Linked DNA regions of Homo sapiens. The protein of the gene in region 5 purifies or fractionates together with the protein of the main gene of each other region. This does not show direct contact. Each region holds a gene or a part of one and is shown on either strand. Other genes may lie near its edges. The genes, in order: FGB, HPX, APCS, A1BG, UBE2U, SAA2 and CP.

Region 1 (4,270 bases), on a different chromosome or scaffold from region 5:
TCAACCCTACGGTCAAGACCTACAAGTAGCCGAGCTCCAGAGTACATTATGAGGGTCAAAGATTGTCTTATTACAAATAAATTCCAAGTAGAATCAACCTTTAATAAGTCTTTAATGTCTCTTAAATATGTTTATATAGGAGTCTAATCACCAATTCACAAAAATGAAAGTAGGGAAATGATTAACAATAATCATAGGAATCTAACAATCCAAGTGGCTTGAGAATATTCATTCTTCTTGACAGTATAGATTCTTTACAATTTCGTAAGTTCCAATGTATGTTTTAGGAATATGAGGTCATTACTATTCATAATCTGATACAGCTTTATCCTAAGGCCTCTCTTTAAAAACTACACTGCATCATAGCTTTTTTGTGCAGTTGGTCTTTCTACTGTTACTGAACAGTAAGCAACCTACAGATTCACTATCACCAACCAGCCAGTTGATGGATCTTAAGCAAATTATCAAGCTTGTGATAACCTAAATTATAAAATGAGGGTGTTGGAATAGTTACATTCCAAATCTTCTATAACACTCTGTATTATATTTCTGCCTCATTCCTTGTAGGGTTTCTTCAGTGCCCGTGGTCATCGACCCCTTGACAAGAAGAGAGAAGAGGCTCCCAGCCTGAGGCCTGCCCCACCGCCCATCAGTGGAGGTGGCTATCGGGCTCGTCCAGCCAAAGCAGCTGCCACTCAAAAGAAAGTAGAAAGAAAAGCCCCTGATGCTGGAGGCTGTCTTCACGCTGACCCAGACCTGGTGGGTGCACTGATGTTTCTTGCAGTGGTGGCTCTCTCATGCAGAGAAAGCCTGTAGTCATGGCAGTCTGCTAATGTTTCACTGACCCACATTACCATCACTGTTATTTTGTTTGTTTATTTTGGAAATAAAATTCAAAACATAAACATATTGGGCCTTTGGTTTAGGCTTTCTTTCTTGTTTTCTTTGGTCTGGGCCCAAAATTTCAAATTAGGATATGTGGGTGCCACCTTTCCATTTGTATTTTGCCACTGCCTTTGTTTAGTTGGTAAAATTTTCATAGCCCAATTATATTTTTTCTGGGGTAAGTAATATTTTAAATCTCTATGAGAGTATGATGATGACTTTCGAATTTCTGGTCTTACAGAAAACCAAATAATAAATTTTTATGTTGGCTAATCGTATCGCTGAATTTTCCTATGTGCTATTTTAACAAATGTCCATGACCCAAATCCTTCATCTAATGCCTGCTATTTTCTTTGTTTTTAGGGGGTGTTGTGTCCTACAGGATGTCAGTTGCAAGAGGCTTTGCTACAACAGGAAAGGCCAATCAGAAATAGTGTTGATGAGTTAAATAACAATGTGGAAGCTGTTTCCCAGACCTCCTCTTCTTCCTTTCAGTACATGTATTTGCTGAAAGACCTGTGGCAAAAGAGGCAGAAGCAAGTAAAAGGTAGATATCCTTGTGCTTTCCATTCGATTTTCAGCTATAAAATTGGAACCGTTAGACTGCCACGAGAATGCATGGTTGTGAGAAGATTAACATTTCTGGGTTAGTGAATAGCATTCATACGCTTTTGGGCACCTTCCCCTGCAACTTGCCAGATAAGCACTATTCAGCTCTTATTCCCAGTCTGACATCAGCAAGTGTGATTTTCTATGAAAAATTCTACTATGACTCCTTATTTTAAGTATACAAGAAACTTGTGACTCAGAAGATAATATTTACAGAGTGGAAAAAAACCCCTAGCATTTATAGTTTTAACATTTGAGGTTTTGAATGAGAGAGTTATCCATAATATATTCAATTGTGTTGTGGATAATGACACCTAACCTGTGAATCTTGAGGTCAGAATGTTGAGTGCTGTTGACTTGGTGGTCAGGAAACAGCTAGTGCGTGAGCCTGGCACAGGCATCTCAGTGAGTAGCATACCCACAGTTGGAAATTTTTCAAAGAAATCAAAGGAATCATGACATCTTATAAATTTCAAGGTTCTGCTATACTTATGTGAAATGGATAAATAAATCAAGCATATCCACTCTGTAAGATTGAACTTCTCAGATGGAAGACCCCAATACTGCTTTCTCCTCTTTTCCCTCACCAAAGAAATAAACAACCTATTTCATTTATTACTGGACACAATCTTTAGCGTATACCTATGGTAAATTACTAGTATGGTGGTTAGGATTTATGTTAATTTGTATATGTCATGCGCCAAATCATTTCCACTAAATATGACTATATATCATAACTGCTTGGTGATAGCTCAGTGTTTAATAGTTTATTCTCAGAAAATCAAAATTGTATAGTTAAATACATTAGTTTTATGAGGCAAAAATGCTAACTATTTCTACATAATTTCATTTTTCCAGATAATGAAAATGTAGTCAATGAGTACTCCTCAGAACTGGAAAAGCACCAATTATATATAGATGAGACTGTGAATAGCAATATCCCAACTAACCTTCGTGTGCTTCGTTCAATCCTGGAAAACCTGAGAAGCAAAATACAAAAGTTAGAATCTGATGTCTCAGCTCAAATGGAATATTGTCGCACCCCATGCACTGTCAGTTGCAATATTCCTGTGGTGTCTGGCAAAGGTAACTGATTCATAAACATATTTTTAGAGAGTTCCAGAAGAACTCACACACCAAAAATAAGAGAACAACAACAACAACAAAAATGCTAAGTGGATTTTCCCAACAGATCATAATGACATTACAGTACATCATAAAAATATCCTTAGCCAGTTGTGTTTTGGACTGGCCTGGTGCATTTGCTGGTTTTGATGAGCAGGATGGGGCACAGGTAGTCCCAGGGGTGGCTGATGTGTGCATCTGCGTACTGGCTTGAACAGATGGCAGAACCACAGATAGATGTAGAAGTTTCTCCATTTTGTGTGTTCTGGGAGCTCATGGATATTCCAGGACACAAAAGGTGGAGAAGAGCTTTGTTCATCCTCTTAGCAGATAAACGTCCTCAAAACTGGGTTGGACTTACTAAAGTAAAATGAAAATCTAATATTTGTTATATTATTTTCAAAGGTCTATAATAACACACTCCTTAGTAACTTATGTAATGTTATTTTAAAGAATTGGTGACTAAATACAAAGTAATTATGTCATAAACCCCTGAACATAATGTTGTCTTACATTTGCAGAATGTGAGGAAATTATCAGGAAAGGAGGTGAAACATCTGAAATGTATCTCATTCAACCTGACAGTTCTGTCAAACCGTATAGAGTATACTGTGACATGAATACAGAAAATGGAGGTAAGCTTTCGACAGTTGTTGACCTGTTGATCTGTAATTATTTGGATACCGTAAAATGCCAGGAAACAAGGCCAGGTGTGGTGGCTCATACCTGTAATTCCAGCACCTTGGGAGGCCAAAGTGGGCTGATAGCTTGAGCCTAGGAGTTTGAAACTAGCCTGGGCAACATAATGAGACCCTAACTCTACAAAAAAAAAAAAAATACCAAAAAAAAAAAAAAATCAGCTGTGTTGGTAGTATGTGCCTGTAGTCCCAGCTATCCAGGAGGCTGAGATGGGAGATCACCTGAGCCCACAACCTGGAGTCTTGATCATGCTACTGAACTGTAGCCTGGGCAACAGAGGATAGTGAGATCCTGTCTCAAAAAAAAAAATTAATTAAAAAGCCAGGAAACAAGACTTAGCTCTAACATCTAACATAGCTGACAAAGAGTAATTTGATGTGGAATTCAACCTGATATTTAAAAAGTTATAAAATATCTATAATTCACAATTTGGGGTAAGATAAAGCACTTGCAGTTTCCAAAGATTTTACAAGTTTACCTCTCATATTTATTTCCTTATTGTGTCTATTTTAGAGCACCAAATATATACTAAATGGAATGGACAGGGGATTCAGATATTATTTTCAAAGTGACATTATTTGCTGTTGGTTAATATATGCTCTTTTTGTTTCTGTCAACCAAAGGATGGACAGTGATTCAGAACCGTCAAGACGGTAGTGTTGACTTTGGCAGGAAATGGGATCCATATAAACAGGGATTTGGAAATGTTGCAACCAACACAGATGGGAAGAATTACTGTGGCCTACCAGGTAACGAACAGGCATGCAAAATAAAATCATTCTATTTGAAATGGGATTTTTTTTAATTAAAAAACATTCATTGTTGGAAGCCTGTTTTAGGCAGTTAAGAGGAGTTTCCTGACAAAAATGTGGAAGCTAAAGATAAGGGAAGAAAGGCAGTTTTTAGTTTCCCAAAATTTTATTTTTGGTGAGATTTTATTTTGTTTTTCTTT
Region 2 (4,270 bases), on a different chromosome or scaffold from region 5:
TGCAGGGGGACAAAGTCTGGGTATACCCTCCTGAAAAGAAGGAGAAAGGATACCCAAAGTTGCTCCAAGATGAATTTCCTGGAATCCCATCCCCACTGGATGCAGCTGTGGAATGTCACCGTGGAGAATGTCAAGCTGAAGGCGTCCTCTTCTTCCAAGGTCAGTCCAGGCTGGAATCCAAGAACCTGGAGTAGTGGTGGGTTGGTAGTGATGCCAGTAGTGATGGTGATAGTGGTAGTGATGGTGGTGGTGGAGCCACTATGTGGCTTTTTAAGGAAGGGAAATAGAGAAGCCACGTATGGTCTAGAGGTCACGTGAGGGAAGGAGAGGAAGTCATTCTGGTGAAGGCAACTGTGTGTAATTCTGTGTGAATAGTCCCTCATTGTTCCCCATGACCCTTAGGACAAATCTACCCTCTTTAGTCTTACATACAAGTCTCTCCATGGCCAAATCCCTATTGGCCCTTCAGCTTTGACTTTTATTATACTTTTACCTTAACACTAAGCTCCAGAAACCCTATGCTATTCTCTGTACACTCAGTTTGCTCCATGCTTTGGAATCTTTCCTCTCTCTGGGGTTCCATCTCTCCTTGTGTGCCTTTTAATTCCTACTTCAGATTTCACTTTAAGTATCATCTTCCCTGGGAAGTTTTCCCAGACTCTCCCCACTGCCTTTGCTGAGCTGATCCTGTGTGTTTTGCTGCTGAATTTTGGTGTATGATCACCCTCCTTTAGCCATCTCTCTGATGGCTGTGAGCTCCATGTGGTCAGTACCATTATCTGGCCCATCCTGGGACCCAGAGAAAGCACAAAGGAGGGCGTAACCCGGTCTCACCAAATGCCTGTTGATTGATTGGACAAAGGTGACCGCGAGTGGTTCTGGGACTTGGCTACGGGAACCATGAAGGAGCGTTCCTGGCCAGCTGTTGGGAACTGCTCCTCTGCCCTGAGATGGCTGGGCCGCTACTACTGCTTCCAGGGTAACCAATTCCTGCGCTTCGACCCTGTCAGGGGAGAGGTGCCTCCCAGGTACCCGCGGGATGTCCGAGACTACTTCATGCCCTGCCCTGGCAGAGGTGAGAAAGCCCTAGCACTTGAGACCTGTCAGAATTCATCCACTTTCCCTGAGCTTGTGGATCTCACGTGTCCTAGCTCTCACTTTAACTCCGTGTTGCGACACCTTGGCCCTTAATCTAGCCCCATTTCCATTCTGGATTTTCCCATTGCCCTCATATGGGGAAACCCACACCCCACTAACCCCAGCCATCTCTTCCACCTTGGACCTCACTCTGACCTCTGGCCTCCTTCTGTGTTCTCCTCACCCATTTCTCTCTCCAGGCCATGGACACAGGAATGGGACTGGCCATGGGAACAGTACCCACCATGGCCCTGAGTATATGCGCTGTAGCCCACATCTAGTCTTGTCTGCACTGACGTCTGACAACCATGGTGCCACCTATGCCTTCAGTGGTGAGAGATGCCCCCAACTCCCCCAATGTGCTCTCACATCTCTTTTACTTGTATCTCCCATCCTTGACACATTTCTCCATTGTCATCACTGTGTCACTTATTTTGTCCCCTCTGTCCCCATCCTTCTGCATGCCCTTCTGCATCCCTCATCTCTGAGGCATATTTCTCAATCTTGTCTGTCACGGCCCAAGCCCCTAACTTCATCTACCTGTCTACCATCTACTCCCATGGCTGTGCCCCCTGTGGACCTCTCTGGGCCCCTATGACTCCTTGTGTTCTCCTTGCTCAATGCCCTGCTGAGCCCTCTGGCTCTCCCTTGCTCCCTGGACCTCTATGTGTCTCTGTACCTCCTTGCCTCCCTTTGTTCTTGCATATCTTTCTGAGTCCTCTGGCTCCCCCTGATTTATCCTCAGAACTCCATCTTGTTTCAGGTTCCTGGTTCCTATGTCCAGACCCCTGGGCATAGCACTGCCTGGGGATGAGATGTTCTCATTGCTGAGAACCAGCTGAGAAGTGTTGGGTACTTTAGACCTTTAGAGGCTGGCTTCACTAGCCTCTGGAGGTTTCTCCTCTGAGTAGCCAATGGAGATACCCCTCCCTTGACCCGTGGCATCAATTGGTAAAAGCCATCTAATAATACCTAGGGCTGTTCTGAGTTCAGTCAGGCAGTAAATAGTCATGCTGCACAGTTGAGAATATCCCCAAGAGGAGTGAGCAACCACATCACATCCAACCTGAGATATATGTATAATTAGGACAGTGGTAAGAATATAAAATCGTGAAAATATTTTTTTCACACAAAATTTTTTTGGCTCCTGACCCTTGGACAAATTTGACCAGTTATGACTATCAAGTTCTGTTGAAAAATACATCACCACATGGAGAGCAAATCTCCACAGCAGGATTGCACACTATAATAAGAACATACAGCTAAGATGAAACACACACCTGTAGTGAAAATACAACATTAAACTGAGAACATACGCCATAGTAAGAACACATAAGTATCAAGAGAACACACAGCCATGGTGGGAGCCCATTGGGAGGACACACAGACAAAGTGAAATGCAGAAAGAGAGAGAGAGTGAGTGAGAGATTGTGAAAACAGGGCCACAGGAAACACACAGAAATAGAGAGAGACACCAAGCCATCTAGAGATCACAGAACTTCAAGGCCATGTGGCCATAATGAGAATGCTACTGAACTCCTAAATGAAAAATGTCATGTATGTTCCATAGCTGTTGAGAGAGCCCACAGCATGGAGAGAACACCTTATATTAAAAATACCCAGGCCGGGCGTGGTGAGTCACGCCTGTAATCCTAGCACTTTGGGAGGCTGAGGCAGGTGGATTGCTTGAGCGGCTTGAGCCTAGGAGTTTGAGACCAGCCTGGGCAACATGGCAAAACCTCATCTCTACAAAAAATATAAAAATTAGTCGGGTGTGGTAGTGCGTTCCTATAGTCCCATCTACTTCAGAGGCTGAGCCCGGAAGGTCGAGGCTTCAGTGAGCCGTGATCGTGCTACTGCACTCCAGCCTGGGTGACAGAGTGAGACCATGTCTCAAAAAAAACAAAAACAAAAAACAAAACAAAACAAACAAACAAACAAAAAACCCATATATATATATATATACCTAGCTGAGGTGAGAATGCACTATTTTGGTAAAATCACCAACATGACCCAGCTACAGCATGGGGCAGTCCCTCCCCTCTCACTGGTAAATTTTTCTTTCTCTGACTCACAGTTTTGTTGTTGTTGTTGCTGTTGTTTGAGATGGAGTCTCACTCTGTCACCCAGGCTGGAGTGCAATGGCGCAATCTTGGTTCACTGCAACCTCTGCCTCCTGGGTTCAAGCGATCCTCCTGCCTCAGCCTCCCGTATAGCTGGGACTACAGGCGCATACCACCATGCCTGGCTAATTTTTGTATTTTTTTTTGGGTTACAATGTACTATTTATTAATTTAATTTTTGTATTTTTAGTAGAGATAGGGTTTCACCATGTTGGCCAGGCTGGTCTCGAACTCCTGACCTCAGGTGATCCGCCTGCCTCGGCCTCCCAAAGTGCTAGGATTACAGGCATGAGCAACCACGCCTGGCCCCTCATAGGTTTTTATCTATTCTCTTTGCTTCTTCACAACTTTGGCTTGCACGTGGACCATCATGTTCTCTCCACTTTCTCACTACTTCATGATCTTTCAGTCTCAGTTCCAACTGATACCTCCCTCAGTTGCTCTTTTTTCCTAGTAAGATTTCCAGAGAGGGAATCTGAATGGCCCAGTCCATATTTTCAGACCACACCACATTAAAGTGGTTGATTGCCAGCCTATGTATTGGCTACATTAATGGGTTGGGAACTCATCATTTACTTCATTGCACAAAGCAGCATAGCTCTGGTTCTCAAAATAGGGCCCCTGGGCCAGGTGTGGTGGCTCATGCCTATAATCCCAACACTGTGGGAGGCCGAGGGGGGCAGATCACTTGAGTCCAGGAGTTCTAGACCAGCCTGGGCAACATGGTGAAATCTCATCTCTACTAAAAATACAAAAAATTAGCCAGGTGTGGTGGCATGCACCAGTAGTCCCAGCTGTTCAGGAGGCTGAGGTGGGAGGATTGCTCGAGTGTGGGAGGCAGAGATTGCAGTGAACCGTGACTGTGCCTCTGCAATCCAGCCTGGGTGACAGATTGAGACCCTGTCTCAAAAAACAAATAAATAAAATAAAATAAATATGGTTCCTGAGCAGGGTAATTTCAGTGGGAAACCTCCCAGGGGAGGTGGATATGTCAGTCACCGCTGTATACT
Region 3 (3,496 bases), about 95 Mb from region 5:
TAACATAATAGTGAAGTCTGGGCTTTTACTATAACCATCACCTAAATAAGCTTGAGATTAATGTGGAAGAATGGCTGGAATTCCTAGAAACAGGAAAAGAAAATAAGAGAGAAATTCAAGACAGTATGAAGGCACTGAATAGAAGTAATGAAATCAAGAAAGCCAGGAAGGTATAAAGAACAACAATTAGAGGTGTTTGACTGGAGAATAGGATTAGATTCTGAGATAATAGCCAGGTTAGAGCCAGATTGCAAATGGCATTGGCTTCCAAGCAAATGGTCTGTATTTAATTCAGGAGTCAATAGATGCATAATCCCAACTTTATCACTAACCTATACTGTGCAACAAGCCAGATAAGGCTTCACAACCTGGGATTCCATTTAGAGAAAAAAAGTAGAGAATGGAAACTCCCCAGGGATGAGAATAGGAAGGATACTTTGAACAATGATAGAGAAAGTGTATTCTTGGTGGCAGTGATTGTGTCATTGAAAAGGCTGATTAGGTCTGTGGTGAGCTAACAGAAGAGAGAGTGAACAAGAGGCTAAACAGTAGGATGAGAAACAAGACACCATATAATTCAGGGATGAGAGAGAAAGAAATAATGTGGCTAGAAAGAAGAACTTCAGTTTGATATCTCAGAGGCAGAGAAGGTTTGAGTGGTGGTTAATAAACTGTACAGAGAGAGAATGAAGGAGACATAGAAAGAATGAAGGTGGAGATCTCTGGGGCTGTGAGAGAGCCAGTGACCACTGAATCCCCAGCACCTAGTGTAGTAACTGAGAGCTAGTGAATAAATGTATTAGTGGGGTCATCACCAAAGATGGATTAGATATACACTCAATGACCAAGGACTCAAAGAAGAGGAGAGAAAAACTTGGGGAGATGCTGACATCTCTGCAGGTAGCATGAAGTAACCAGAAAACAAGTCGTAATGAGAAATGGAAAGATCTAGGATAAGGAAGCACCATGATATGCAAACGAAAAAAAAGCACTGAGTAGAAGTAGCAGAAAAATACTAAGCTTCATGGGGACAGAAAGTTTATTCTCCAAGTCCCTCTTTCCCCTTAGCTTTGCCTGGATGTATTACTTGATGTTGAATTAGTCAAAGTTGAAGGCACTTTTTAGGGTCTTCAGCAGAAAGCAGAATCCTAGAATATCCTACAAATACAAGACAACTTGAGAACTATAAAAGAAAGAAAAGGCCTTGTTCCCATAGCCCACAAGAGGGCTGAGCTCAGCGATACACTCTGTGTGGCTCAGGAGCTTCTGGCAGAGCACAGAGCCATCAGAGAGGGGGCCCAGAGAGCAGAGAGAGGCTCTGCTGACATGGCCAGCCCAGCGCCTCATCCCATCCATAACCCTGCTGCCCTGCAATGACTCTCTTCCCAGCAATAAAATCTGGGTCACAGGAGTTGGAGCTCTAGCCATCACTTGTCTCTAATAAATAACTCCCATTGATTTTCCAGCTCAGGGCTCACCACTCCTTCACCGTAAGCGCCAGGAGGCAGACCTGGAAAATCACTCACATATTATTGGTGCTCTTCCTCCCCCATCCTCACCCAAGGTGCATATAAACCCTGAATAACCTGAAGTCTAAGGGCATGAATATCAGACGCTAGGGGGACAGCCACTGTGTTGTCTGCTACCCTCATCCTGGTCACTGCTTCTGCTATAACAGCCCTAGGCCAGGAATATGAACAAGCCGCTGCTTTGGATCTCTGTCCTCACCAGCCTCCTGGAAGCCTTTGCTCACACAGGTAAGGAGGTGAAGGAATGGTCAAGAATCATAAAGTGAGAAAATAGGTTGAAGCTGAGATATCTTTTCCCTGCATTTATACTGAAGGTCATTATCTTTCTTTCTTTATCCCGCAGACCTCAGTGGGAAGGTGTTTGTATTTCCTAGAGAATCTGTTACTGATCATGTAAACTTGATCACACCGCTGGAGAAGCCTCTACAGAACTTTACCTTGTGTTTTCGAGCCTATAGTGATCTCTCTCGTGCCTACAGCCTCTTCTCCTACAATACCCAAGGCAGGGATAATGAGCTACTAGTTTATAAAGAAAGAGTTGGAGAGTATAGTCTATACATTGGAAGACACAAAGTTACATCCAAAGTTATCGAAAAGTTCCCGGCTCCAGTGCACATCTGTGTGAGCTGGGAGTCCTCATCAGGTATTGCTGAATTTTGGATCAATGGGACACCTTTGGTGAAAAAGGGTCTGCGACAGGGTTACTTTGTAGAAGCTCAGCCCAAGATTGTCCTGGGGCAGGAACAGGATTCCTATGGGGGCAAGTTTGATAGGAGCCAGTCCTTTGTGGGAGAGATTGGGGATTTGTACATGTGGGACTCTGTGCTGCCCCCAGAAAATATCCTGTCTGCCTATCAGGGTACCCCTCTCCCTGCCAATATCCTGGACTGGCAGGCTCTGAACTATGAAATCAGAGGATATGTCATCATCAAACCCTTGGTGTGGGTCTGAGGTCTTGACTCAACGAGAGCACTTGAAAATGAAATGACTGTCTAAGAGATCTGGTCAAAGCAACTGGATACTAGATCTTACATCTGCAGCTCTTTCTTCTTTGAATTTCCTATCTGTATGTCTGCCTAATTAAAAAAATATATATTGTATTATGCTACCTGCATTTGTTTAGTGCTTGTCATAGTCCCATATCTTTATCTTATGTCTACTACTTATCTATCTACTAATTGGTGTTTCATTGGTAATTGGTGTTTCATTATCCTGAAAACTCCAATTGCCAAGTACGGGGAGGAAAACCTGTAAGTAACTAGAAAGATATATCACAAAGCCAGAGCACTCAATGAGCACAACAGTGGCAATACTTAAAAGCTACTAACAATCATTTTAATGACGATTCAAAATATGTGTGGAATTGTAATCACAATTCTCCTATTTGTTTTTCCAGCTACAAATCGATCAAAAAGGGGTCTGAGGTTGCATCAGGTAGACAACTATAATGATATAAGTAAGCAATAGTTGAGAACCTGACAGCAAGTAATAAGACAGGAAGAATAAAACTAGAAGAAGTCAGAATGAAAACCAAAAAAGTATGAGACTGGGATCATTTTGTATGAAGACAAACATAACTTTATGTCTCAAAAACCTCAGTAGGACTGTACAATGCTTGATTTTCATAATGTTCTCTTGATGTCATCAAAAAATATTATACTCTGAATATTGCTCACATGAATATGCTGTCTAAAATTCTTCCATGGATTCACACTTCTTACAGGACATGATTTAAACCTCTAAATATGACATTGCCCTCTATAACCTGGTCCCAGTTACTCTCTCTGAAATGTACACAGAGAGTATACACAGAATACTCTCTGAAATGGACTTTCCATGTACATTTCAGATACAACTCTTAGCAGAGCAAGCCACATCCTAACTATCACACTGAAAAATAATTGTCAGATGCTATTACTAGTAGTTATTTTTATGGTTATGAAAAGCATGGAACACAGTGCCTGGCA
Region 4 (3,675 bases), on a different chromosome or scaffold from region 5:
ATCGTGCACCAGGCATCAAGCCATGCACAAAACATGTCCCCGTCCCCGCTTCCCGTCTGTGTCTGTAGACAAACAAATTACTAAGAAACAGTGAAAGGGTGCGTGTGAGATATCCAAGGACTGGGATGCAAAGGTGGGGCGGGCCCGGAGGAGGCGAGGGAGGAAGCTGGCCAGGTCATTGCGGGCAGAAGACTCAGCCAAGGCAAAGAGCGCGAGGCCAGACCACGCGTTAGGGCCGAGCCAGCCGCTGGGCGCCCGGGTCAGCCCGTGTGCTGCTCCGCAGAGACGCTGCCCGCGCCGGAGTTCTCCCCGGAGCCGGAGTCCGGCAGGGCCTTGCGGCTGCGGTGCCTGGCGCCCCTGGAGGGCGCGCGCTTCGCCCTGGTGCGCGAGGACAGGGGCGGGCGCCGCGTGCACCGTTTCCAGAGCCCCGCTGGGACCGAGGCGCTCTTCGAGCTGCACAACATTTCCGTGGCTGACTCCGCCAACTACAGCTGCGTCTACGTGGACCTGAAGCCGCCTTTCGGGGGCTCCGCGCCCAGCGAGCGCTTGGAGCTGCACGTGGACGGTGAGCTGGCGGGGCACCAGCGAGGGCGGGCGCGGGTTCAGTGCCCCTCGGGGCCTCCTGTCTTTCCCCTCTTTCCTTGGGCGTCCGACGGCGGCGCTCTGGGCCTTGGTTCAGCCCCCATCGCCTACCCCGGCGGGGAGCAGGCGATCGGTGGTCGAGGGTCTGGGGACGCCTGGAATTTCGGCTTATTTCCCACGGACGCAAGCCCGTAGGTCACGTGTAGCGTGGTGGTCGGCAGCAGGGAGGCTGGCCCCAGGTTTTCTTGTTCAGATCCCTGCAGCTCTGTGGCTGCCTTGTTTTATTACTGGCCATGTCAGTCGTCATACTGGACCCCCCGCCCCGGCCCCGGTCCCGCAGGCGCACGGCTGATGTGTCCTTCTCCCCATCCCCGCCGTCCCCAGCTCTGTTTGTCCCTCTGATTTCCTCATCGACGTCTCCAGGACTCAGAGCCCAGCAGAGCGTGAGGGCACAGGTCTGACCTCCAGATCTTGAGGTCGTACCCTTTGCTGGGAGCACCGTTTTCTCTTTTCTTTCACTTTCTTTCTTTTCTTTCCTGCCTTCCTTCCTCTTTCTTTCTTTCTCTTTCCTTCTTTCTTTCTTCCTTCCTTCTTTCTCTCTTTTCTTTCTTCTTTTTTCTTCTTTCTCTCTCTCTCATCTCTGCCCCCCAACCCCATCTCTCTCCTTCATTCCTCCCTTTTCTTCTCCTTTTTGTTTTTTTTTTGGATAACTTACTTTTATTCTTGCAGGCCGGAGTGCAGTGGTGCAGTCTCAGCTCACTGCAACTTTCGCCTTCTGGGTTCAGGCAGTTCTCCTGCCTCAGCCTCCTGAGTAGCTGGTATTAGAGGCGCATGCCACCATGCCCACCTAATTTTCGTATTTTTAGTAGAGACCGGGTTTTGCTATGTTGGCTGGGCTGGTCTTGACCTCCTGACCTTGTGATCTGCCCGCCTCTGCCTCCCAAAGTGCTGGGATTACACTTGTGAGTCACCATGCCCAGCCTATTCTTGCAGTGTTATAAGCCACCATCCACAATTGATGAAAAATGTTTAATCTTGGCCAGGCAAGGTGGCTCACGCCTGTAATCACAGCACTTTGGGAGGCCAAGGCGGGTGGATCACAAAATCAGGAGTTCAAGAGCAGCCTGGCCAACATGGAGAAACCCTGTCTCTACTAAAAATACAAAATTAGCCAGCTGTGGTGGCACATGCCTGTAATCCCAGCCACTTGGGAGGCTGAGGCAGGAGAATTGCTTTAACCCGGGAGGTGGAGTTTGCAGTGAGTCCAGGTCATGCCACTGCATTCCAGCCTGGGCAACAAGAGCAAAACTCCATCTCAAAAAAAAAAAAAATGTTTAATCTTTAAATTGTACATCTATATCCTATGACTCCAAATTTTATTTATCACTCTCCTTAAAGTCTGAAGAAAATGATTAATTTACTAAGCTCCAAAGACAACACAGTCCCACTGACATAACATTTAGTATGATGTCCTACTCTCCTGTTAGAATTAAGAACAGCCAGTATCAAACTGGCCTGAAATCTGATTGGGTTCCTGGGCTCAGAATAACTGTAGTAAATTTGTAAATCCACACTAAGACACAAAATTAAACTAGGATGTGTATATCTATCTTACAAGAAAACGTTTCACAGTAAAAATTAACATTATGATTTTACCAAATTTCAACATTATAGTTTGTTAATCCAATCAAGCTTTCAAAATTCCTGATTAGCTTACAATTAATTGCAAATAACTTCATGTAGTTTGGCTAGCATTTCAAAATGGATAGGGAATATAACTTTTAAAATGCGAAAGTATATTATACATATTGCACTTTTCTGCTAGGCTGGGCTAGTATCTTCCATGGCAAGATACTCAAACTATTGAATAAAATACACATTTAAATCAAGCACTTACATGTACTTCATTAATTTCCCTGAAATTATCAACAGCATTACCAAAATCTTCCAGGATTTTGTAACATTTGATTCCTTACAGTTTTGTTTTGTTTGTTTGTTTTTGAGACGGAGTGTCACTCTGTCACCCGGGCTGGAGTGCAGTGGCGCAATCTTGGCTCACTGAAACCTCTGCCTCCCAGGTTCAAGCAATTTTCCTGCCTCCACCTCCCGAGTAGCTGGGATTACAGGCGCACGCTGCCACGCCCGGCTAATTTTTTGTATTTTAGTAGAGACGGGGTTTCACCGTGTTACCCAGGCTGGTCTGGAACTCCTGAGCTCAGGCAATCCGCCTGCCTCGGCCTCTCAAAGTGCTGAGATTACAGGTGTGAGCCACTGCGCCCGGCACCTTAAATACACTTTTAAAGTTAAACTTATGGAGGGAAAACCCTCATCTATTGACATAGATTGTATGTCCTTTTTTGGTCCCTCCATGAAGGAGCACCGTTTTCTCCATCATTTCTTCTTCCCTTCACCCGTCAGAGTGACCGAGGCTGGGGACCCCAGAAGCCCCAGAGCAGGCCCGAATCTGGGACTTCCACGGTCCTGGGGGAGGGGTGCGGGGACACTCACGTGTGGCGCGGATGTCCGGGGTGTGAAGGCAGCGGGCGCAGCTCGGCGGCGCCGGAGGAGCCCTCTGCGCCCAGGAACAAGACAGGGAAGATGAAGCCGGGGCTGAGGCGCAGGCGCGGGCGCGGCCTGGGGTGTGGCCTGGGGTGTGGCCTGGGGCGTGGCCTGGGGCGTGGCCTGGCCCGACCACCCGCCCGCTCCGCCCAGGACCCCCTCCCAGGCCTCAGCTCCGGGCGACGTGGAGTGGGGCGGTCCTGGCGGGCCGAGATGCCGTCCTGCGCTGCGAGGGACCCATCCCCGACGTCACCTTCGAGCTGCTGCGCGAGGGCGAGACGAAGGCCGTGAAGACGGTCCGCACCCCCGGGGCCGCGGCGAACCTCGAGCTGATCTTCGTGGGGCCCCAGCACGCCGGCAACTACAGGTGCCGCTACCGCTCCTGGGTGCCCCACACCTTCGAATCGGAGCTCAGCGACCCTGTGGAGCTCCTGGTGGCAGGTGACGTTTCCCTGGGTCCCGGGTGCTGGTTCCGTCTGCTGATGTTTGCCTGGGCTGTGCCCACCTCCAGGAGGGCCTCTCCCGGCTCCTCCC
Region 5 (4,270 bases):
CCCCAACATTTGTTATGTTTGCCTACCCTGAATAGCTAGGTCTTTGCCTCAGTGTATTGACAAGAAGACCAAGCTCTAAGCTCAAACCCAGTGTGGAGGTCTGATGACCTTCCCATTTCCTGACAGCCTCCTTTCCTTGTGGCCTGGCCCCTTTTCCTTTCTTAGAGGACTCACATACCCCAGACTGCCTGGGAAAGTCCTGGTATAATTATTCCCAGTACCTCCTTTCACTTGCAGTGTACCAGTTTGAACAAACGATTATCTAGCCAGTTGGGTGCCCAGCTGATCTTTCCTAAAAGCAAATGACTCTATAGTTGTGCCATTCTTAATGGTAAAGTCCATCCAGGTCCCAGTTGGCCAAACATGAGGAAGAATTGTTTGAAATAATTCAAGTTGCTTAAAAGAATGGACAAGGCCAGGCTGGCAGTTAGTAAACTCTCTATTACTAAAGGTATTCTTTGTATCTAGTGTTTATTTGATAGAGCTAAATGACCATTTTTCAGAGATGTTATCAAAGAGCTTCTTTGATAAAAAGCTCTGGCGCCAAGAATTGGATAAGGGGGCCTTTTCAATACCTTCCAACCTATTGTTCAACTAGTTTATGAAAACTCAGAGGAGGAAGGTCTGGAGACAATGTATAACAACTGTTTGCCTCATAGATTCTGAGTATTGCTACTTACTTTCTAATTTGTTATGAGCTTTCATAGGTTTCATATGAGCAATTATCTGCCCCTTTTTTCAGTTCATCCTTGTGAATGTTGATTTCTATGTAGTTATATTATCAAGTAATATTTATCTTCTGTTTGTCATAGTTGCTTTGATTTTTTAAAATGTAAGTTTTGTGTCATTTTTAAAACCTTTGGTTGAAGAAAAATACAAGAGTATAAAAAGAGTAAAGCTGAGTGATGGTAGCTAAGCCTGAGGTAATTATTTTTTCTTAGCCAAGTATATTCCTATAGTTTTTGATAAAAAAGGAGGATCATCTAATACATTTCAGATGCTCATCTAAATAAGCTATAATTGACATTGAGTCATAATACTAGAATAAAGGAGAATATAGAAATATTAGGGAGATTGTAATACTAATTTGTGTGATATACTTTTTAAAAACCTGATAATTCTACAAATACATCATATTCTGCTTGTGATTAAGAAAATGTTGTGACAGACATTTGATTCTTCTCCAATTCAAGTTCCCAGTTTGTTCACTGGGTTTAAAAAAATCCTTTTAATAATAGAGCAATTTTAAAGCAAATTGTCTCTACAATTGAAGCAGGTGGTGTCTCATAGGATTCCAGGTTGCCGTTTCTTTTTAAAGTGAGTATACTTCTTTGGTTAGGTGTAAGTATACCCCTTCCCCTGAGAAATATACTTTGTGGGTGTCGGGGGAACACAAAATTTAGTCCAGTAGCATTGCTTACTTGTTCAAGAACATGAGCTTTTTTAGCACCATCATTCAGAACCAGTTTTGTTGTTGATGATTACAGTTTTGTTACAGATATTCTGTTACTTAAAAATGTCATAAGATACTAAAAAACTGAGTTTAACAGCAGGGTAGAGTGTGGATCTATTTGCTCGAGTTACGTACCTCTTTTTTCCTGTTTGTATTTCATTATACCAGATAGTCCAGTAACTTTTCGGCAAAGTTTCTAAGTTGCTAGTTTTAACGAGAAATGTTAAATATTTATTTTCTATCAAAGAAATATATGTTGATAGTTTTAGAGGACAAATAATAGGAATCAGTTTTTAATGAAATATGTCCTCTATCCCTGAGTGCTGCCTGCCAGAGGCAACAATAGCTTTCAACACATTTAGCTGTTTCCTCTGGCATTTACCACCACATTTCTAAGTTGATTCTATACTAATATTTCTAGGCTTTTCGGTTTTAGATATTATTTATAGACTTCATCTTATAAAATACAAAGATTTTGCTTTTATACTACTATTGCTACCCACATTTCCTCTCCCCCATCCTCCTAATATGATTTGGTTACATTAATATGACTTTATAAATACTTGCCACAGATAAACCATAAATGATTATCTTTCTTTTCTTGTACAAAAGGTCTGATTTTACATTCCTTTGTTTTTTATGTGTGTACTATCTTTTCTTCTTCTAAACTTTCTGACAAAGCTATAAAACAGCTACTAGGTATTCAGTCAGCATCGAGTCTGTTTTGTTTTGGGAGCCCTCTTTCCTGTGGCACTCTATCCTTCCTCTCCATTTCTGAATTGGCAGTTCTCTTGCAGGTGTGCTGGGATGGCCTTTTTGGTGCCTGCTGGGTTGGAGCTCCTGCTTGCTGCTCAATCCCCATTTTCCTTGTGGTTGGTTTTGCTCCTTTGTTTTGTTGGAGTACATCTTCTAGGAGCTTCCTAGTACCTGGGAGCTAAACCTTTTATAACTTTGCATGCCTAAAAATGTAATTACGTTACTGTCATATGCTCATAGTTTGGTTAAATTTTAGTTTGGAAATAGTTTTCTTTCCAAATCGTAAATACTTTACTACATTTTAGTTTCTAGTGTTGCTCTTGAGAAGTCTAATTTCATTCCGATGTCCAATTTTTCACATGTGATTTATTCTTTTTTTTTCTGGAAGCTTTTTAAACCTTCTTTTTATTCCCAGTGATTTGAAATTTTTGATAATATTTCTTTGTGTATCCTCCCCTTCCCTGCCTCCACATTACATAGGACATTTGATAAGCTATTGAAATCTCAATCTCTAATCATTCAGTTCTGGAAAACTTTCTTATGTGATATCTTTTATAATTTCTTCTCTCTTCATTTTCCCTATTGACTCTTCTAGATCTGCTCTGATTTGAATGTTGGGTCTATTGATCTGATCCTCTAATTTTTTTTTTTTTTTTTAGACGGAGTCTCACTCTGTCTCCCAGGCTGCCAGGCTGGAGTGCAGTGGTGCGGCAATCTGGGCTCACTGCAAGCTCCACCTCCTGGGTTCACGCCATTCTCCTGCCTCAGCCTCCCAAGTAGCTGGGACTACAGGCGCCCGCCACCACACCTGGCTAATTTTTTTGTATTTTTTTAGTAGAGATGAGGTTTCACCATGTTAACCAGGATGGTCTCGATCTCCTGACCTCATAATCTGCCTGCCTTGGCCTCCCAAAGTGCTGGGATTACAGGCATGAGCCACTGCGTGCAGCCAATCCTCTAATTTTTTAAAACCAAATTTCTCCTATTATCCATCTCTTTGTTCGTTGTATATTCTGGAAGATTTTGAGAAAAATGTTTCTGTTTCCTATTTTTCTCTTTTTTTGTGGTTAGGATTGTTCTCTTTTATGGTATTGACCTTGCTCAAATGTCTAGTGATCTTTGACTATCCATTCTTATGATGGACATATGATGAATGGACTATTAAAAAGACTGGAAGTTCTGAATACAGGCTGGGCTTGTTGACAGTTTTATTTCATTGTAGAATTATTCAGTGAGAACCTGGCCATTTCATTAGACTTAACTATTTCTCCTGAGAGGAATCTGCCAGGCTTGTGGAGAGAGAGAGAGAGAGAGAGAGCAAGTGCAAGCAAGAGAGAGAGAGAGCACTGCTAATACTCTGACAGCTGGACGAGGGGAGAGAATCAGGAATCTTGTCTGTTCGATATGATTTATTCCATTTTCAGTTTCTTACTCCATCCTGTTTTGTTTCTACTGTCCTCCAGTCCTGAGTCTCTCTGGCCCAGTTTTTCCAGAGGTTAAATATCTTCCTTCTTGCGTGAGCAGTGGTCATCATGTGATTGCACAAGATGAGGGTATAAGTTTTTTGTCTGTGCTCTCCCTCTTACCCCTCCTTCCAGAGGTATCTGGCACATTCAATTCCTGAACTGTTTCACAGGTTCTGAAGTGCGAATCCATTTGCTTTTCGTTGGTCTCCTCTCATCAAGCAGTTTTTTTTTTCAAATTTCTATGGCCTGCTAAGACAGTTACCACTTGACATCTGCTTTCTATCTTGAAAAATTTTCTTGTCATCTTTCTTTTGCTCTCCTTGAGATTTTATATCTTATTTTTATTCCTTTATTACCATTTTATTGAGGCTTTGGAAATAGTGCACATAAAGCCATATATTCAATCTCCAAGTAAACCAGAATCCTTTCATATTTTTTCTTTATAGTGAAAGATGACAGCCAGGAGTTACCTAAAGACCCACGTAAATGTATCAGGTAAGTTTTTCTTTATACAATTTATGTCGATTTATTTACCAAAAGGACTATTTATTTAAACTCTTTATGTTTTTCATCATAATTAAATGTTTGTTTTTAA
Region 6 (4,766 bases), on a different chromosome or scaffold from region 5:
CCTTTCTCAAGTCAGAAATGGTCTCTTTATTTTGTTATACATTTTCCTTATCATCAGTAGATGTTGACAATTATGAAATTCATTTTCTGCATCTAGTAAAATAAATGTACAATCCTTTTCTTTGATTACTGGTATAGTGAATTACAAAGATAGATTTTTCTGATATGAAACTCTTCTTGACTCCCTGGAATAAGCCCTGGTTAATCACGATGTGCTATTATTTTCACCTGATCTGTGCTGTACCATGTACAGCATGATGTACTATTACTGCTACCCAGTTGGAAACATTCAGCCTCTCTCTGTGAGCTCTTTTTCCCTGGGGATGTCAACTACCCTGCCTAAAATATGTGTGACTGTGTGTGTGGACCCATTCCAGCAGGTACCACTCTCAGTGGTTTTAAGGTGGCAAGATGTAGTGGGGGAGGTGGAGGTGTCAATGCATAGGTCTCAGAACAGAGTCTATAATATCATTGTTCACATTGGAGCCACGCATTTGCTGCTTATGGAGTATTTGGCCATCCTTTACTTCCTGGCCCTACCCATTTCTCAGAGATTAAAAAAAATTTTTTAAGATAATCTTGCTGTGTTGCCCAGGCTGGCCTCAAATTTCTGGGTTCAAGCAGGCCTCCTGCCTTGGCCTCCCAAGTAGCTGGGACTATAGGCACATGCCACCATGCCTGGCCCATTTCTAAATTGCTTGTTTGTTTGTTATTACAAATGCCTAGCCCTCAGGGTATGAACATGGACTGGAGAAGAAGAAACCAGAGTTGCTGCTATGTCCACCAGCCTCTCTGCATGTCCTGGCCTCAGCCCCCCTGGGCTCTGGTACTGACCCATCTCTGGCCACCATGCTCCTCCATAAGCCTCTGCAGAGCTAATCTGACCCTGTTGATGTTCTCATGAGAGAGTGATCTGCATGCCCCCTGCACCCCTCCGTGATAATACAGCAGACCAAGAGCTCTCCCACCCTTCCCTGCCTGGATGCTGGGCACGTCCCCAGCTGGGCTGCCTATTTAACGCACCACACTCTCATTCTCCCAAGGTGGGGCTCCAGGACTAGGCTGGGGCAGCAGAAAGTCCCCCTCTCTACATTGTCCTTGGCTCAGGAGCCAACTTAGAAAAAGCATTTCCAAATTGGCTAAGCCAGCGGAGCAGAGATTTTCTGTGCTGAGAAATATCAGGACATCCAGAGGGGTGGAAGGAGGCTTCCAGGGCACACATGAGATGTGGCAGGGGTAGGCTGTCCGTTTTAAAGCTTAAAGCTTTAGACATGAACTCACAGGGATTTCAGTCAGGGTCATCTGCCATGTGGCCCAGCAGGGCCCATCCTGAGGAAATGACCGGTATAGTCAGGAGCTGGCTGAAGAGCTGCCCTCACTCCACACCTTCCAGCAGCCCAGGTGCCGCCATCACGGGGCTCCCACTGGCATCTCTGCAGCTGCACTTCCCCCAATGCTGAGGAGCAGAGCTGATCTAGCACCCTGTCCATTGCCAAGGCACAGCAAACCTCTCTTGTTCCCATAGGTTACACAACTGGGATAAATGACCCGGGATGAAGAAACCACCGGCATCCAGGAACTTGTCTTAGACCAGTTTGTAGGGGAAATGACCTGCAGGGACTTTCCCCAGGGACCACATCCAGCTTTTCTTCCCTCCCAAGAGACCAGCAAGGCTCACTATAAATAGCAGCCACCTCTCCCTGGCAGACAGGGACCCGCAGCTCAGCTACAGCACAGATCAGGTGAGGAGCACACCAAGGAGTGATTTTTAAAACTTACTCTGTTTTCTCTTTCCCAACAAGATTATCATTTCCTTTAAAAAAAATAGTTATCCTGGGGCATACAGCCATACCATTCTGAAGGTGTCTTATCTCCTCTGATCTAGAGAGGTAAGCAGGGTCGGGCCTGGTAGTACTTGGATGGGAGAACACCTGGGAATACCAGGTGCTAAAGGCTTTAAGAATAAAAAATAATGATCCTGCTTTGTGTTTATCCCATGTTGAGTTCTGTGCGGGGCAGAGGGAACACACGGTAAATGCGTTATGGGGAATTATAGGCTACTTGAGGGAGTGACAGTCTGGTGGTAACTCCTGCCTTCCTCCATCAGTGCCACATTGGCATCCTCTTATGCAGTCAGGCTTCAGGGCTGATGGGTTCAGAACCGAGGGCTTCTGGCTCTGAGTGAGGTCCTGCTGCAAGGTTTCCTAGATGAGCCACTGAGACTCTAATAAGATCCAGTGGAAATAACCAGGCTCTCGTCGGAATATAAGTCCCAAGGGAAGCTGTGCCAGTCTTGTGGGCGACTGCCTGACTTCTCCTTTCATTTCAGCACCATGAAGCTTCTCACGGGCCTGGTTTTCTGCTCCTTGGTCCTGAGTGTCAGCAGCCGAAGCTTCTTTTCGTTCCTTGGCGAGGCTTTTGATGGTAAGGCTTCAGAAGGTTTGCAGGATTTCTGAAGAGAAACATCGCCCTGGACCTGATAAACTGGGGAAAATGATGCTTTCGGAAGGCTGCTTTTGAACCACAGAGTTGCTAGTGTCTGCGTTGCTGAGGCCTGCCAGGAACTAGGGTTTGCTGGGTTGCCTGTCTCGAGTCTTTCAGAGCTGCTGGGAATATCCCCTTTCCCCGTAGTGCAGCTTCTCAGGATGTGTTAAGTGGATGGATCACATTTCAGAAGCCGCTGCAAGGTGTATCAAAAACACATCTCCTGAGCCGTAAGGGACGGGGCATCCAGTAACAACGCACACGGGGTATTTTTGGGCTTCCTTAAGATTTGAGCCGCTGCCTTAGGTTGTGCTGCCCAATGTGCCTGGGGAGCTGCTAAACAGATTAGAGAGTCGAGGATTGTTGTCAGTTACTCAGAGAAAGAACAATCATCCTTTCCAGGAGCACCTGAGCTGTTTGTTTTGAGTAGAAGATGCAAAATAAGGCCTGCAATTGGTATAAAATGTCCCTCAGCATAAATCGCATAGGAGTATGACTAAGGCTGTTGACTCTTCTGTCTTCTTTCTCCTTCCTCCTTCGATTTCCTAGTTGGATAATGTACAGGGCTCTTTAGCCTCGCTCTGTCAGGGGCTCCCTTCCTGGTTTGTTCTGTTTCCATTCTTCCTTCTCCAGCCTTCTTGACAAGAGCTGGGAACTAACGTGCCTCAAGCCCCCACAAGGACCACAGCATTTTCTCATCTAGTTTCAGAATGACTCTGTGAGGCAGGCATCCCTTCTGTGAAGGTGAGAAAGCTGAGACTTAGAGCAGCTGAGGCCAATGCCCAGGGACTTACTGCCAGTCAGCAGGTGGCAGGGCAGAGGTTTGAGCCCGGCTGTGCTTGAGGTCAGGGCTCTTGCCAGGTAGACGCATCACTGACCACCTCCCAGAGGTTGATGGTTATGAATCTCAGACACACCTTGGCATCACCTGAACTACCCATGCCTTCAACTCCCCAGCAGAGTCTGCAGAAACTGGCCTGGGGTGTGGCCTGGGCACTGGGACTTTCAGTTTCTCTCTGGGTGATTAGAAAGTGCAGCCAAGGCTCACGCCTGTAATTCCAGCACTTTGGGAGGCCAAGGTGGATGAATCACTTGAGGTCATGAGTTCCGGAGCAGCCTGGCCAACATGGTGAAACCCTGTGTCTACTAAAAATATGAAAATGTAGCCAGGCGTGGTGGCAGGCACCTGTAATCCCAGCTACTCAGGAGGCTGAAGCAGGAAAATCACTTGAACCCGGGAAGCGGAAGTTGTAGTGAGTTACATTGCTCCAGTGTGCTCCAGCCTGGGTGACAGAGTGAGACTCCGTCTAAAAAAATAAAAAAGAAAAAGAAAGTGCAACCACGGCGGAGAACCGCTGCTCTATTGCTTCCTCAAGCAACCCACAGTATCAGTACAGCCTACTGAGAAAGTGTTTAGGGACTTTTATGCTCCTAACAGTCACTGGAACTCAGGTCACAATGACATGTATTCCATTTGCAAGAATATATACTTTAGTAGTCAGGGCAGAAGTACTCTGTGTCTGCCACCTTTCTCAGCATCAGTATTCCATGTCACCACCTCATTCATATACACTCCTGGATCTTATCATAGGCAGCTTCATTCTATAGCAGTGGCTCTTCACCAGGGCACTTGAAGAAGCCAACTAGGATAAAGGAATGTGCTTCTCAACCCATGGTATCCAAGGCTGCTATGATCACAGGCTGAAAGCTTGAAGTCAGTGGAAGATTTGTCCTTCTTTCATTCCCCTCTAAGGTGTTGTTGGAGTCTTTATGTTCTCCTGATGTCCCTTCTGCCTTTCCTTTCCTTTCCAGGGGCTCGGGACATGTGGAGAGCCTACTCTGACATGAGAGAAGCCAATTACATCGGCTCAGACAAATACTTCCATGCTCGGGGGAACTATGATGCTGCCAAAAGGGGACCTGGGGGTGCCTGGGCTGCAGAAGTGATCAGGTAACTGGAGCTCCTGGGACGTTAGGGCTGGGTGAGCAGAGCTTGCCTGCCTTGGACAGTCAGGAGGGAGACGAGCTCCTTGTGGAGAAGTTAGAGGCTGTGGTCCCTCCTCTTCTTGCCCTCTCTCTGCCTCTGTGCTCAGTGTGAGGGTCTGAGTGGATGGTAGGAGTGAGTGATTCCTCCCCCTCCCCCTCTGGGTGCTGTTCATCCAGCCTAGGGGTGCCCAGCCTGTCTGAATGGGGCAGTGCCCAGGCAGGGTCAGTGTTTTCACTCCTCCTTCCTTGGCCTTTCTGGGCTCCTCTCTGAGCCCTCCCTTGGAACGGGGAGAATGG
Region 7 (4,863 bases), on a different chromosome or scaffold from region 5:
ATATTATTGGCATTAATACCAGAGAAGTAAACTTTATTTTTTTAGTCCCCCCCAAAACCTATACATTTTTCTCTTTTAATATCTGCCAGTGTTTTCAGTTGCACTAACCCTGCATATAATCCCCTCAGGTGACTTTTCTATCTTATTCTGTTACCTGATTTGTTCTATAGCATGAATCTCTCCACATGAGGAGCAAGGAAAAGTTTTTACAATACAGTCTATGATTTTTCCTATCTTCCTATGTATCTTTTATTTACTCATTTAAACTTATTCAGAAATATTTATTTAGTGTCTCCTATATTCTAGGTACTAGTGACCAAGCACTAGTACTTGCATATGCATATACTAGTACTCTCAATGCATATTTTCCTGTTCATCATCCCAGACCTTCAAGATCAACATTCAGCTTAAACTCGATTCTTTACCTAAAATTCATATTACACTCTTTCACATCTTATTCTTCAGCCCATTTATTTCCACTCCTTTTTAGTCATCATACGATAAGAAGTGCCAACCATGTCTTGTGATACTCCATCATCCTTCACTGACTGGGCTAAACATGCTGCAAATCTGGGACAAAGAAGGGACCAAAAGGTTGCTATCTGCACACATCTATGCAAAAAGTTTAGCATAGTATTGGCAAAATTGCTGAAGCTGTATTCAAAATTCACTGGTAAGATATATGGGGGAAAAAAATCACAGAGAAAGCAGTCCCACCTAGAGTTTGCAAAACTGTAGCATATTGTTGAAGCCAGAGGAGATGTTAAAGTCACAGGACAATAACAAAAAGAGAGGTGGACTTTGCAACTAGAAGATGCTCCATTTTTCCTTTTAAGGAGCCTTAAGTATCTCTATTAAGTATACTTTTTAAGTAACTGATATGGTTTGGCTGTGTCCCCACCCAAATCTCACCTTGAATTGTAATAATCCCCACATGTCAAGGGAGGGGGCCAGGTGGAGGTAACTGAATCATGGATGTGGTTTCCCCCATATTGTTCTCATGGTAGTGAATAAGTCTCATGAGATCTGATGGTTTTATAAATGAGAGTTCCCCTGCACAAGCTCTTTCTTGGCTGCTGCCATGTAAGACGTGCCTTTGCTCCTCCTTTGCCTTCTGCCATGATTGTGAGGCCTTCCCAGCCATGTGGAACTGTAAGTTCATTAAACCTCTTTTTCTTTATAAATTACCCAGTCTTGAGTATGTCTTTATTAGCAGTGTAAGAACAGACTAATACAGTAAATTGGTACCTGGAGTGGGGCACTACTGTAAAGGTACCCAAAAATGTGAAAGTGACTTTGGAATTGGGTAGCAGGCAGAGGCTGGAATAGTTTGGAGGGCTCAGAAGAAGATAGCAAGATGTGGGAAAGTTTGGAACTTCCTAGAGACTTGGAGGGCTCAGATGACAGGAAGGTATGGGAAAGTTTGCAATGTAAGACATGCCTTTGCTCCTCCTTTGCCTTCCACCATGATTGTGAGGCCTCCCCAGTCATGTGGAACTGTGAGTCCATTAAACCTCTTTTTCTTTATAAATTACTCAGTCTTGAGTATGTCTCTATTAGCAGCATAAGAAGAGACTAATATAGTCACAATGGGGTAAACAGGCTTATACTCATTGGGTAGCTTCCCTGGCACAGACAGGCCACAGGAGTAATTAAAAACAAAGGAATTTCCTCCGCCCCCATTCACCAAATTCTAAACAAACTCCTTCACTCTTCTACTCCCTGATTTTTAGAATTAAAGATTTTTTTTTGAAGCATATTCAGGGCAATGTCTTGCACTTAGTTTATGCCTGATAAAGCTGATTTGATTTTTGATCACGAACAATGGCAGAGTGGTGGTGAGTGGGGGCATAGAGAAGGATAGTATTTTTATTTTTTTAATGTGTCTGACTTTTTCCTTGGAAATAAAAACCACATATAATTTATATTATATTTAATCAAGAAAATACTGAATCCATGCAAAATAATGTTTCTGGTGAAGCTGTAAAAATATGTCATATTCCTTAGAAGATAATACCACCTTAAAACCAGGTTAAAAAAGAAATAATTACAAGATGTATTAGTTTTATTTACAACCACTTATCTTCAGGTCAGAAACTTTCTTTATTGTATATTATTAAATTCATAATATAATAATTGGATATTAGTATCTGTTATGTATTTATTTTTATGGTGAAAAATTTCAACTTTACATAATGTTAAAGAAAATAGTATATACTCATCAATAAGATTCAATAATTACAAACTTCGGCATCCTTATTTAGCTGTTTTTTAAAGATATAATCTTGGCAGCTGATGGTCATTGGGCTTGTTTGTGTTTTATTACCACTGAAATACATTTTAATGTAGTGAATATTGATTTTGAATTCCAAGTTCCCATTTGGTGGTTAATGTTTAATTAACATCATTAAAAGTGAAGACCTCAGTATAGATAAACTTCTGTACAAAAAACTTCAAGGAGAACTAAACTTTTTGTTTTACTGTGTAGTGAATATTGCTTTCAATAAGGGGATTTTCCAACTGAAAAATGAAGACATTTAAGTTACATGGAGCTTTTTGAGGACCATCCTAATAAGTACCTGACATTTTTTTATGCACATATGTGCCAAGCATTGTACTAAGAGCTTTACATGCACCCGCTCTTTAAATAACCCTATGAGCTATGCTTATTATCCTCATTTTACAAATTAGGACCCTGAAGCTGTGAAAGATTAACCTACTTAACTGTCTGGAGTCTCTCAATAAATATCAGGCAGGATCTTATTTGCTAAAATTGTATTTTATTTCTATAAGTGATGTTTTGAAAGATATAAAAAAATTTTATGCCTATCATGAATAACCATTAAATGGTGCAATAAACATAACATTGTATACAGTAATTGTTTAAATGAAAGAACTTCTGCATAAACACATAAAAAGACAGATTCCTAATCGGAGATGCAGTTACGACCATGGGAGGTAGTAAGATGTGAACACAGATCCCCAGGAACAACAGGAAAGAAGCAGGGTAGTCCACCAAATAAAAAATATACAGGAATATAAAGGAGATTGATTCAAGTGTCTTGGGTTTCAAGCCCACATTTTGCAGTTTCTGTATATAAGAAATTTTAAAAATATTTCATCTTATTGGCTCTATCCTTTAAAAATAACTTAAAATTTTGGTCTATAAACAATAAAAATAGTGACTTACGTGTCAACAGAAATAAGTTTCTTTTCCCCATGGTCAGAGGCATAATCCCAAGTCGTTTCAATAATTCCAATGTAATAATGCTTTTCTTTCGCCCAGGCTGGGGTACTACATAAAAACAGAAAAATACCAAGTATCAAAATCTTCATTTTTTTCCCCTTCTTGGAGCCTGAGAAGAAATGAAGTAAAATCAGGAGCAGGCAATTTTATAAATAAGACTTTCTTCCTTATTTGCTTGATTGACACAATTTAGTGTTGCACAAGAGTAAATTGTTTCATTAAAGCAAATATTTTCCAATTCAGTTAAGTTCTCGTAAACCACCAAAAAAACAGTTCTTGGTTGCCAGGCTTCTCTGACTGAAAATAAAAAGTCAACAGTTATTGTTGGAGGCATTAGGGTGTGCATAACTCTGTGCCTTTTTCCATTCATTGTGTAAATTCCAGGAGGGCAGAGAACGTGTCTAAATGCTCCCTTTGTTCCTCTGACAATATGTCACAGCACAGTGTCCTGCAAACAGTGCACTTTTAGTAAATCAGGATAAGAATTATGTAAAATGAATCAAAACATGTAGCTTTTTACTACAGTCATTCTTAATGACAGGGATACGTTCTGAGAAATGCATTGTTAGGCTATTTTGTCATTGTGTGACTATCACAGAGTGTACTTACACAGACTTATATGATATAGCCTACTATACATCTAGGTAGGCTATATGGTATACCTATTGCTCCTAGGCTACAAACCTGTACAGTCTATAACTATGCTGAATGCTATAGACAATTGTAACACAATGATATTTCTGTATCTATACATATGCAAACATAGAAAATGTACAGTAAAAATATGTTATTATAATCTTATGGGACCACCATCACATATGCAGTTTGTCATTTACTCAAACATTATTATGTGGTGCATGACTATTTCTAAAAGTCTAACAAATGATTAATTGCAGCTTTATGATATGAAACATGATATCTAGCATGCCAAATTTAAGTAAACAAAAATAAGAATTTAATTTGGAAGAATTTATCTGTTTTATGAGCTTGGACCAAATCTGCATAAAAACTTTACCAGATCATTCTGTATTGCTATATGCAAATAACTAGCAGAGCCTAACAGGGGCTAATAACTTTGTTTTAATCATCAAATAAACAAACCATAACTAAACCTGTCTTCAGAGGCAAAGATTAGTCTTAGTAAATAGAAAGTACCCCAGTTTATCATTAGACTGAAATTTTTCTCTTTGAAGTGGATATGAATTTTAAGGTGGAAGACTTTTTCTTAAAACCCTGTTTTTAGTCAGGAAGTATATGTCTAAAAGTATGAAATGGCTTTTTTTTTTAGCTGAAGAAAATCCTGATAACAGTTGACACTTTGTGTTAGTATAATTTTTTTTCTCTCAAATACCTCAAAACGTTGTGTATTTGCTGAAGGCCACTTGTTGAAATAGATTGGTATAGAAGAAAGCATGCGATATTTGAACAATTCCTTCATTTAGGAAATATTATTGAATGAGCCAAGTTCTGTTCTACTCACTGGGAATACAGCAGTCTGTGCCAAGTTCTGTTCTACTCACTGGGAATACCGCAGAGAACAAAACACCTACCATCATGCAACTTACATTCTACTTGGGGAAACTGAAAATATAAAAATGAAAAATGAAATACACAAT

What was found.
Region 1: the proteins of UBE2U (region 5) and FGB purify together in Homo sapiens (affinity purification with mass spectrometry; one large-scale study listed by BioGRID and IntAct). This does not show direct contact.
Region 2: the proteins of UBE2U (region 5) and HPX purify together in Homo sapiens (affinity purification with mass spectrometry; one large-scale study listed by BioGRID and IntAct). This does not show direct contact.
Region 3: the proteins of UBE2U (region 5) and APCS purify together in Homo sapiens (affinity purification with mass spectrometry; one large-scale study listed by BioGRID and IntAct). This does not show direct contact.
Region 4: the proteins of UBE2U (region 5) and A1BG purify together in Homo sapiens (affinity purification with mass spectrometry; one large-scale study listed by BioGRID and IntAct). This does not show direct contact.
Region 6: the proteins of UBE2U (region 5) and SAA2 purify together in Homo sapiens (affinity purification with mass spectrometry; one large-scale study listed by BioGRID and IntAct). This does not show direct contact.
Region 7: the proteins of UBE2U (region 5) and CP purify together in Homo sapiens (affinity purification with mass spectrometry; one large-scale study listed by BioGRID and IntAct). This does not show direct contact.

The regions. Positions count from the first base shown.
Region 1 is NC_000004.12:154,565,241-154,569,510, forward strand, and holds part of FGB (fibrinogen beta chain isoform 1 preproprotein), read left to right. Parts: intron 1-567; coding exon 568-759; intron 760-1,248; coding exon 1,249-1,432; intron 1,433-2,352; coding exon 2,353-2,580; intron 2,581-3,140; coding exon 3,141-3,254; intron 3,255-3,941; coding exon 3,942-4,067; intron 4,068-4,270. UniProt on the Homo sapiens protein: Cleaved by the protease thrombin to yield monomers which, together with fibrinogen alpha (FGA) and fibrinogen gamma (FGG), polymerize to form an insoluble fibrin matrix. Fibrin has a major function in hemostasis as one of the primary components of blood clots.
Region 2 is NC_000011.10:6,434,245-6,438,514, reverse strand, and holds part of HPX (hemopexin precursor), read left to right. Parts: intron 1-5; coding exon 6-159; intron 160-862; coding exon 863-1,075; intron 1,076-1,337; coding exon 1,338-1,469; intron 1,470-4,270. UniProt on the Homo sapiens protein: Binds heme and transports it to the liver for breakdown and iron recovery, after which the free hemopexin returns to the circulation.
Region 3 is NC_000001.11:159,586,229-159,589,724, forward strand, and holds APCS (serum amyloid P-component precursor), read left to right. Parts: upstream 1-1,597; 5' UTR 1,598-1,693; coding exon 1,694-1,757; intron 1,758-1,872; coding exon 1,873-2,480; 3' UTR 2,481-2,637; downstream 2,638-3,496. UniProt on the Homo sapiens protein: Can interact with DNA and histones and may scavenge nuclear material released from damaged circulating cells. May also function as a calcium-dependent lectin.
Region 4 is NC_000019.10:58,347,260-58,350,934, reverse strand, and holds part of A1BG (alpha-1B-glycoprotein precursor), read left to right. Parts: intron 1-283; coding exon 284-565; intron 566-3,294; coding exon 3,295-3,582; intron 3,583-3,675.
Region 5 is NC_000001.11:64,216,738-64,221,007, forward strand, and holds part of UBE2U (ubiquitin-conjugating enzyme E2 U), read left to right. Parts: intron 1-1,273; exon of another isoform or gene 1,274-1,316; coding exon of another isoform or gene 1,317-1,317; intron 1,318-4,121; coding exon 4,122-4,170; intron 4,171-4,270. UniProt on the Homo sapiens protein: Catalyzes the covalent attachment of ubiquitin to other proteins.
Region 6 is NC_000011.10:18,245,578-18,250,343, reverse strand, and holds the start of SAA2 (serum amyloid A-2 protein isoform a preproprotein), read left to right. Parts: upstream 1-1,675; 5' UTR 1,676-1,741; intron 1,742-1,827; exon of another isoform or gene 1,828-1,888; intron 1,889-2,328; 5' UTR 2,329-2,332; coding exon 2,333-2,423; intron 2,424-4,295; coding exon 4,296-4,434; intron 4,435-4,766. Other genes in the region: SAA2-SAA4 protein precursor, read left to right, coding at 2,333-2,423, 4,296-4,434.
Region 7 is NC_000003.12:149,218,457-149,223,319, forward strand, and holds the start of CP (ceruloplasmin precursor), read right to left. Parts: upstream 3,374-4,863; 5' UTR 3,337-3,373; coding exon 3,191-3,336; intron 1-3,190. UniProt on the Homo sapiens protein: Multifunctional blue, copper-binding (6-7 atoms per molecule) glycoprotein. It has ferroxidase activity oxidizing Fe(2+) to Fe(3+) without releasing radical oxygen species. It is involved in iron transport across the cell membrane.